2 separate regions of the Homo sapiens genome follow, and region 2 is linked to region 1. Evidence: fine-mapped expression QTL. A gene starts in region 1. The other region holds a variant in brackets. All regions are shown on one strand. Distances are between the middles of the regions.

Region 1 (5,198 bases):
TAGGGTCCTGACCATCATCCTCTGTGACCCTGGGCAAGTCCCTTAACCTCTAGGTGCTCCAGGTCCTCATGGACCCCCACCCAATAGGAGCTAAGTACAGACTGAATGACTTACTATAGCCAGAGTACTTTGCTAAGTGAGCCCTTCATAAGCATTCAGTTACTCTGAAAGCCTCTACAGCATCGCAATCCCTTGTCCTCTGACTTGTTTGATAACCAGTAAAAGTGTGATTTTTCTGACCCAGCAACAAGAGAAAACAACTGTTCTCAACCTTTGACCCCGGCCCCATCAGGTGGGGCCAAGTCAAAACGACCCAACAGCAGGGTCCACTGGGGTCCTTGGGGCACCCACAGCAGCAGCCCTCACCACAACCCGTTGGCAAGAGACCAACCACAGGACTTGCAAACCAGAGCACAGGGCCTTCATTTCAAAGCCTGGCACAGGCCTCAGCACAGAGACTGAATGAGCCTTTCGGAGTCTCCATGGCTCCATAGTCTGCCAGTCCTTGCTGGGGACCCTGGCCAAGGGGATTCAGAACACAGAGCGTCCTGTCCACGTTCTCAGAAGCCCTGGCTGAGGCCACAGCATAGGGACAAAGAGCGCTCCCCGAGAGCCTCCTCTTGTCAGCCACACTGCCCAGCAGAGCGGGTCTCACCTGCCAGGGAGGACCTGCAATGATCACAGAGCTTACCCAGGACGGCCACTGGCCCCCACACCAGCCCGCCGGGCCCTGTGCTGAGGACAAACTCTGGATTCTCTCTGAATCCTCACAATGCCCGCCAGGCAGTCCTTAGTATTATCTCCCTTTTACTGAGATTCGGAAAGGTGAAGCATGGCCAGGCACAGTGGCTCACGCCTGTAATCCCACCACTTTGGGAGGCCGAGGCAGGCAGATCACCCGAGGTCAGGAGTTTGAGACCACCCTGGCCAACACAGTGAAACCCCATCTCTACTAAAAATACAAAAATTAGCCAAGTGTGGTGGCGGGCGCCTGCAGTCCCAGCTACTTGGGAGGCTGAGGCGGGAGAATCGCTTCAACCCAGCAGAGGTAGAGGCTGCAGTGAGCCGAGATCACGCCACTGCACTCCAGCCTGGGTGACAGAGTGATACTCCATCTCAAAAAAGAAACAGAAAGGTTAAGCAACCTGCCAAGGTCACACAGCCAGTGCAGCCCCAGAAAGGCGCCCAGACCCCTAGACACAAAGTCTGTGTTCCCTGAACGGTGCCATATGCTGGGCGTCTCATCAAGGGGCCTGCCAGAGCTGCTCCCTGCAGATCTCCTTCCTGACTGGTCCCAGGAAGCACCTGAAGAACTTCCTGGAGGCAGCTTCTGAGGTGAGCAGACAGGGTGGCCACCTTGGCCTCTGGTTTTTCATCTCTCGTCAGGGTCCCCTCCTTGGCCCCTCATTACTCCATGGATGGGCACATGCCACAGACCAGTGGGTGGGCACCAGGATTCCAACCCAGTTCCTTCCAGACAGAGGAGGAAAGAAGGAAAGAGAGGCCAGAGAGGGAAGGAGCCAGGTGTGAATTCTCAGAGTGGTTCGAGCAGCAGCCGCACCAGAACAGAGGGCTGTGACCTTGGGCAGGTCTCAGGGCCTCTCTGGGCCTCAGTTTCCTCATCTGTGAAGTGAAGCTAAGGTCCTTCCACCTCTTAATCCAGAATCTCATTCCCCTGGTGTCAGCGAGGGGCGGACGCACCCCACCCTCGGGGGGCGGATTCAGCAATCTTCAGACCAGGACAAAAAACGGGAAGGGCAGGAGGGAGTGCAGAGGGGACTCTGGGGTGGCAGAGGGCAAGGAGAGGAAGCCGCCCCCGTCTAGGGGGCCCGCCCCAGCCCCACGGGAAGTGGGACGGGGAAAGGCACCCTACAAAGAAAGGACTCCTAGCTCCCAACTGGTTCGAATCCCACCTCGGCCACTTACTGGGTGTGTGACCTTGGGTAGGGTAACGCCTCTCTGTGAGCCTCTGCTTTTTCCAGAAGAAACGGGAAAAATCAAAGTGCTGCCTTCTCTGAGTCAATTAGGCGACCCTCATTACGGCGACAGTCGGGAAGTATGGGGTCTGGGCCCGCCCGGGCACACGGAGGGTGCCTGCCGCAGGTGGCCGGTTCCCTCGGGGCTGCCCAAGGCTGGGCGAGGGCCTCTTCGCCCAGCTGGTCGGGATCAGGACGCGACACGGAAGAGACCCCAGCTCTGCCCTGACCCCGGTCCGGGTCCGCAGGACGCAGCCCACTCGCCCTCAGAACACCGGCTCGCCTGGCACCCGGCGCGGCCCGGGCCCCGCTCGGACTCGAACCTGGTGGGGGCGCGCCCGGCAGAAAGCGGGGTGCTGGGACAGCGGGACCCCCACGCGCGACCCTGGTCTCCCGGGCCAGTCCCCTCCCCAGGTCCGGGCGGCTCACCAGGGCCGACTTGGATGCTGCGGTAAGTGGTCAGCCCCGCCGGCCAGTCGCCGCCACCGCCGCGGGCCCCGCCCAGCAGGGGCTCCGACTCCGCCTGGGGTTCCGCCATCCAGCAGCCCACGCGCTGGACCCGACCCTCAGAAGCTCAAGCCCCGAAGGCGCCCAGCTTCACTGCGCAGGCGCGGAGACCCCGTCCCTGGCGTTTTTGCTGACGCGCGCACGGCACTGTGGCGCAGGGGATCCCTGCAGTCCCAGCCAATGAGAACGGGGAGGGAGGGGTGGGGTTCTCCTGAGTGGGGCGGAGCTAAAGGGCCCCGCCCCTCTAGGGTGGAGCTCAGCTTCGTTCCACCCAGGGCGGGGCAGCGTTCTGGGGCTTAAGGGCCGAGGGCTGGGGAGGAAATATGTTCTCAAAGGATGTCTTTCCGGCCAGAAGCTTCAGCATCACCTGGAAACATTTTAGAAATGCAAATTCTTGGGCCCTTAAACCTACTAAATCAGCAACTCTGCGGGGAGGACCCAGGAATCTGTGTTTTAACAAGCATTCGGGGTGATTCTGATGCATGTGAGTATTGAGTACACGGGGTGACTGCAAAGGACTCCCCCCAGAATGGAACTGGAGTTTACCCTCTGATGGTGAAATTAGGAGGATTCAATATCATTAAGGGAAAAGTTTAAAAACATATGACACACTTAAAAAATATTTACAACGTATATAAAAAGTGTTTTCAACATTAATGCATAAAGACCTTGTATTCGTTTTCTATTGCTACAGTGACTAATTACCACAATCTGAAAATATAAAATAACTCCCATTCATCATCTTTCAGTCCTGCGGGGCAGGAAACCTCCTGTCTCAGGGCCTCACGAGGCTAGAGTCAAAATGTCAGCTGCCGTGGGCTCTTATCTGCAGACTCTGGGGAAAGCCCACTTCCAGGCTCATCCAGGATGTTAACAGAATTGTCTCCATGGGCCTAGGACTGAAGTCCACGTCTTCTTGCTGGATGTTGGCTGGTGTCATTCTCACTCCTAGAGGCCACTGCATTCCTTCCACGATGGCTTGAACACCTCCATCATCAGAGCCAGCAAGCAAGAGCACGCTGAAGACGCTTCGAGATGCAGCAAGACGCCTGTAATCCCAGCCCTTTGGGAGACCGAGGCAGGTGGATCACGAGGTCAGGAGATCGAGACCATCCTGGCCAACATGGTGAAGCCCCGTCTCTACTGAAATACAAAAAGTTAGCCAGACGTGGTGGCACGTGTCTATAGTCCCAGCTACTCGGAGGCTGAGGCAGGGGAATCGCTTGAACCCGGGAGGCGGAAATTGCAGTGAGCTGAGATTGCGCCACTGCACTCCAGCCTGGCAACAGAGCGAGACTCCATCTCAAAAAAAAAGGTGCTGCAAGACGCTTCCAATCTCTGTGACTTCCCCTTCTGCCATACCTCTTTACTTTTTCCCCCTCTTTTGGGGAGGGGGGAGGGTTTAAAATAAATATAAAATTTACCATCATAACTGTGAAAGGAAAATAAATCTCAGGACTCCAAAATCACTAAGCCAAAGGGAAAAGTCAAGCTGGGAACTGCGTTGGGCAAACTGCCTCGCCTTTTCTTCTTTAATAAAATAGCTACGAAGATTTAAAAAGCTACATACCTCCCTCACAATTTGCCCGCTAGGAAATTTTTCGTGGGCACCCAAGATCTTTACCCTAAAACAGTTTTGTTGAATTTTACCCTAACAATGTACATTGACAACTGATCTTCACAGGTTCCAAACAAAGGATGGAACTCTAAGTCATCCCTCTGCTCACCTGATTGCTTCCTCTGGTATAAAAGTGCAGATTCACCGAGCCAGACTAAGGCATAAGTGACTATTCCTCTACCCCCGCAACCTGTAAATTGTGTATTTCAGTGAAAGTCTGATCAAAGACTCACAAGAATGCAACCTTTGTCTCTTATCTCTCCACATATTTTTAAAATTTCTCCCTCTTTCCCAATATCCACCCTTTCCCTTTTTTTTTTTTTTTTTTTTTTTTGAGACAGAGTCTTGCTTCGTTGCCCAGGCTAGAGTGCAGTGGTGCGATCTCAGGTCACTCAGCAACCTCCGCCACAGCACCTGGCCAGTTTCCCCTTTAAATATTGAAGTCCTACAAATCATCCTTGAAGGAAGGCATAGACCTGCCTCCCAGGCACTCCTTAACCTTGGCAAAATAAACTTACTAAATAGATCGAGACCTGTCTCAGATATTTTTAGTTCACATAACTATATTGAAGTGTACAGCTCATTGATATTAAATATATTAATGATGCTATACAACTATCACCTCCAACTCCAGAACTCTTTTTATCTTGCAAAACTGAAATTCTGGACCCATTAAGCACTGACTCCTCATTCCCTCAGCCCCTGGAAACCACCATTCTCCTTTCTATCCCTAAGATTTTGGCGACTCTAGGTTCCTCATTTAAGTGGAATCCTGCAGTATTTGTTCTTTTGTGACTGGCTTATGTCATTTAGCCTAAAATCCTCAAGGTTCATCCATGTAGCATGTGTCCAAATTTCCTTCCTTTTTAAAGCTGAATAATACTCCACTGTATGTATCCATGACATTTTGCTTATCCAGTCATCCATGGATGGGCACTGGGTTGCTTCCACCTTTTGACTATTGTGAATAATGCTGCTGTGAACATGAGTGTACAAATAATTCGTCAAGACTCTGCTTTCAGGCCAGGTACAGTGGCTCATGCCTGTAATCCCAGCACTTTGGGAGACCAAGGCAGGCGGATCACCTGAGGTCAGGA
Region 2 (5,198 bases), 27 kb before region 1:
GGCTGTAAGTAAACCATGTTGTGATATTAGAGTCACCTGAAACATACGCAAAGTGTCACCCTGATATATATAAAAAAAAAAAAAGCTGTGTGAAAAAACACAGGTAAGTGATATACTCATAGCTACAGAAACTCAGCACAGAACCAACTCCTGTACTGTGGCCAGCAGCAGCAGGAGGCAATGAGGGGCAGGCGGGCAGACGCTGCCACTGTCAGGACCCTTGTGAGACCCAGCACTTCCCACGCTCAGCAGCCTCCTTGAGACACGTCTGTGTGTGCAAGAGGTCAACAAGGGGAATGGCCTAAACATTTCTCAGCAAGGAGACCTGCACCCGCTGTCCCACACGGGAGCCACTGACCACCGGCGGCTATTTCATGAAAATTTCAATGCAACAAAATTCAACACTCAGTTCTTCGGTGGCAACAGCCACGTGTCAAGTACTCCACAGCCACATGTGACACGTGGCTACAGCTCATCCCCCCAGAAAGTCCATATGAAAATGGAGAGGGTAAGAAGACATGGCTGCGTGAACAGGCAGGCTGCAGAGTGAAAATCGCAATGCTTCATGTATACGTCAAAGAAGAACAAAGCAACTGTTTCCCCAGGTAACTACAAATGCCTGAAATTACACAGGGAAAAGTCTGGAAGGAAAACACCAAAATATCCAGTTGAATAGAGTGGCTATTCTCCAGTGAGACCCAAACTGGTGGTGCCAATGATCAGCGAACTTCCTCTCGGCTCCCGACATCCTCCTCGATACGCACTCTGCCACAACGGGCAGGGTCCCTTTCAGCGTCTCATCCACAGTGAACGGGAGTTGAGGCTTTCTTAGCGGAGGGGCTGGAGGGACACAGCAGGAGGGCAGGAGGGCAGGTGGAGGGACATGGCAGGAGGGCAGGTGAAGGGACACAGCAGGAGGGCAGGTGGAGGGACACGGCAGGAGGGCAAGTGGAGGGACATGGCAGGAGGGCAGGAGGGCAGGTGGAGGGACGTGGCAGGAGGGCAGGTGGAGGGACATGGCAGGAGGGCAGGTGGAGGGACATGGCAGGAGGGCAGGTGAAGGGACACGGCAGGAGGGCAGGTGGAGGGACACGGCAGGAGGGCAGGTGGAGGGACATGGCAGGAGGGCAGGAGGGCAAGTGGAGGGACATGGCAGGAGGGCAGGAGGGCAAGTGGAGGGACATGGCACGAGGGCAGGTGGAGGGACATGGCAGGAGGGCAGGAGGGCAGGTGGAGGGACGTGGCAGGAGGGCAGGTGGAGGGACATGGCAGGAGGGCAGGTGGAGGGACACAGCAGGAGGGCAGGTGGAGGGGCATGGCAGGAGGGCAAGTGGAGGGACATGGCAGGAGGGCAGGAGGGCAAGTGGAGGGACATGGCATGAGGGCAGGAGGGCAAGTGGAGGGACATGGCACGAGGGCAGGAGGGCAGGTGGAGGGACATGGCAGGAGGGCAGGTGGAGGGACACGGCAGGAGGGCAGGTGGAGGGACACAGCAGGAGGGCAGGTGGAGGGACACAGCAGGAGGGCAGGTGGAGGGACACGGCAGGAGGGCAGGTGGAGGGACACGGCAGGAGGGCAGGTGGAGGGACACGGCAGGAGGGCAGGTGGAGGGACACCGCAGGAGGGCAGGTGGAGGGACACGGCAGGAGGGCAGGTGGAGGGACAGAGCAGGAGGGCAGGTGGAGGGACAGAGCAGGAGGGCAGGCCTCCCCTGCGGTTTCCGGATGCTACGGGGTGGATCGGAGTGTGGTGTTAAGCACATCTGGACACGCTCTGTCCGAGACACATAGTCCCCAGGGGACCTACAGCCACAGCCTGACCTCCTGAAAATTTCCCAGCTTCCCACAGTCCTCAATGTGGAAACCAGTGCCCAAAGGCCACCTGCCCACACTGGCACCGAATTCCCTCGGCAGGACCACGCCACTGCCTGCTCACAGCCTGGGCCTGCTGCACCCAGGAGGGTCGCCTCCTGCTTACCCAGTGACCACAAACCAACCGCAGCCCGGGGAAGCCAGTGAACGTCTCTGCATTCCTGTGGGCAAAACCACACCTGCTCTCAAGAGGTCTGAACCCCAGCTTCGGAGGGTCCCCTTCCAGGTCCATCCTTCCTCATGCACTCCCCTCAGCCCAAGGACACCACATGGTTTCCTTACATCTTGCAGTTACTCTTTTATCGTAGTTGCCACTGCCGTACATGACACTTTCTGTTTAACCCAGACGGACACCTTGGCCAAGAGAGATTTCAGCATTATCTATTACGTCTAAATTGTTACAAGGAGAAGGTGTTCATATGTTAG[C/T]TGTGTAACTGAGAGATAACTGATATGACTAAAGTGCTTGTCTCTGGGTAGAAAGCCCGTGAGGTGGATTTTCCCACTTCCCTCTGTTGTCTATAATGAATGACCACTACATTTTTAACCCCAAAAGCTTCTCATATGAAGAGGAGACTTCTTTCAGCAGCAGGCAGGGCACCTTCTCTGAAGCTCGCCAGCAAGCACCAACCGACTCCCTGGCCACGGCCAGGCTGACGCCCAGGCAGTGACCCCACACGGGAGGGCTCTCGAAAAGGCTGGAGCTCCCATGACGTCAGCCTGCCGAGAAAGGACCTCTTTGTGCTTCCAAAACCACAGGCTGCCCCAAATCTGAGCAATCCCAGAAGCATCTGCCTCCCAAACTGAAGCTCTGCCAGCCCTTCACGTCAGCGGGCTCTGCGTCCGCAGACTGAACCAACTGCAGATCAAAACATACTCAGGGAAAAAGCATCTGTACGGAGCATGTACAGGTTTTCTTACCCTTATTCCCCAAACTCCCACTGCATTCCTAGGTGCTAGGTATTCCAAGTAGTCTAGAAATGACTTAAAGTATACGGAAGGATGTGTGTAGGTTACATGCAAACACTACATCATCTTAAGAGACTTAAACATCCATGGATTTTGTATCCACATGGAGTCCTAGAACCAATCCCTGCAGATACCGAGGGGCAACGGCCTCCCCTCTACAGTCAGCATTATTGAGGAAAGAAGGAGTCAGAAAACCAGATTAAGGCTATTGTGGCTCCCAAAACCTGTGGAACCTAAACTCCCATCTCAAAGCCCAGTGCTCGGTGCCCTGGGAAGAGCATCGCCGGGACCTCCAGGGAGACCACCAGGCTGGGAATCAGGCCAGGCCTGCGTGTTGGGCCTTCCCCACTCCTGTGCGCACACAAGCCCGCTCTACTGGGTCACGGCCAAAGCAATCCATCCGCCCTTCCTCCACATCATCACGGGAGGAGGAACCCCTTTCCAGGTCTCACCAAATCCTGACACTGGAAAAGGGTGGGAGAGTCAGCTCTGGACAACCAGGACTCAACCACGCCCTAGGGAACGGCAACAACTGCCCAGGGAGAGCCCAGATGGCCCAGAACACACCAGGAGCAAAGCCTGAGGAACAAAAACCACCTTTCCAGAACCTTTAGGATGACTGGCTTCTCCCAGCCTGTGTCTGCCTGCCCCTTTAGTCATATCAGTTATCTCTCAGTTACACAGCTAACATACGAACACCTTCTCCTTGTAACAATTTAGACATAATAGATAATGCTGAAATCTCTCTTGGCCAAGGTGTCCGTCTGGGTTAAACATGGGCCGGATCACAGCAAACCTAGCCTACGACAGCCGCTAAGAGCTGCTTCCTGAGCCCCAAACAGCTCCGCCCCTAGGACAAGCGCCTTTATCTAGAATGGTGCTTCTTAACTTTCTGTTATCTGAGGACCATCTCCACAGTTTCTGTGAAATCTGCACCTGGTAAAATTTATTTCGTATCTTCAAGTCAACCTTAAGTTGATAACGCATTGCCCAGCCTTGTCCCAAACAGAGGTTTGATGGCGTGAATATTCAAACTGCCACCTACTGATCCTCACCACACTCATCGCCCATATGCCCCAAGGGGCTGGGGGTGCCACAATGAGGAATGCAGCCCTAAAGAGGATGCCCGAAGTGAGGATGGGGACGAGTGCGTGGCACTCAAGCTCAGGCTGGGGCAGGGCCTGACTACAGAGGTCTGGAAGGACCTTAGGAAAACAATGTTTTTTAGAGAACCACCTCTGACAGGGTCCTGCAGCCACAGGGGCCGACAAGGAATCCTGAAGCAGCTGACAGTTGCTATGGGTTGAATTTTGTCTCCCTCGAAATTCGTATCTTTAACCTCTAACCCCCAGTAGCTCAGAATGTGACTATATTTGGAGACAGGGCCTTTTAAAAGGTAATTTAGTTAAAACAAGGCCATTAGAATGGGCCCTAATCCAATCTGAATAGGGTCCTTATAAGAGGAGGAGATGACACACAGAGGGATGACCACGTGAGGATACAGGGAGAAGGCGATGTCTACAGCCATGGAGAGAGGCCTCAGGTGAGGACACAGGGAGAGGCTGGCATCTACAAGCCACGGAGAGAGGCCTCAGGTGAGGACACAGGGAGAGGCTGGCATCTACAGGCCACGGAGAGAGGCCTCAGGTGAGGACATGGGGAAAGAACAGCACCTACAAGCCACTGAGAGGGGCCTCAGGAGGAACCAGCCCTGTGACACTTGGCCTTGGACTGACGGCCAGGACTGTGAGATAACAAATGTCTGCTGCTTCAGCCCTGCCCCCGCCCCAGTCTGTGGTGCCGTCCCAGGAGCCTGAGCAAACGAGAAAAGTGACACAGAACTGGCAGGCGTCTGCCACCCCACCTCTCTGCCCCATCCCTGTTCCAGGGTCTGGCTCAGTCCTCTGAGGCTGAGCAGCTGGAATGGCAGCCCCCGTGCTGCCCCCACACTGCCTGTGAGCACCTGGGCTGTTTCCCACTGTCTCCACCCACCTGGCCCAGGCCTTCTGGACACAGAGCTTAGTCGGATGCTGAGGCCCACCTGGGAACTTTGTAAGTGTCAAGGGTGAAAGGCAAAGGCCTTGGAGAGGACCAGTGTGTGGACCTCCTGAGGAAGGACAGACAGGAAAAGGAGAGTCTGTCATGGAAACCGAGAAGACCATTTGGAAGACTCCTTCATGTCGGGCTGGGCTCAGGCTAGTTCCTGGGGTCTGGTGAATTTCATAAAAATCTCCCCAGTCTCCAAGAGCCAAAGAGAACTCCATTCCCAGTTCCCATACTAGGAGCCAGGATCCCTGGCAGGTGAATCCCAGCACTGATCATTAGAAGAGTTCCCCAGGTGATCAAGGGCAGGGGAAACTG

Evidence for each region. PIP is the estimated chance that this variant, and not a neighbour inherited with it, causes the effect.
Region 2: its variant is fine-mapped to the expression of TPCN2 in fibroblasts (GTEx, PIP 0.95).

Annotation. Positions count from the first base shown.
Region 1 is chr11:69,046,314-69,051,511 of GRCh38, reverse strand. TPCN2 (two pore segment channel 2) reads right to left here and starts at 2,580. Exons shown (of 25, transcript NM_139075.4): 1 at 2,406-2,580. The coding sequence starts at 2,514. RefSeq lists an enhancer at 1-176 and silencers at 2,153-2,252, 2,333-2,502, 2,623-2,842.
Region 2 is chr11:69,073,046-69,078,243 of GRCh38, reverse strand. The region is part of intron 13 of TPCN2 (two pore segment channel 2); the gene reads right to left. Among named protein-coding and RNA genes, the nearest start is that of MIR3164, 7.5 kb to the left of the region's middle. The variant C/T (reference allele first, on the strand shown) is at 2,298.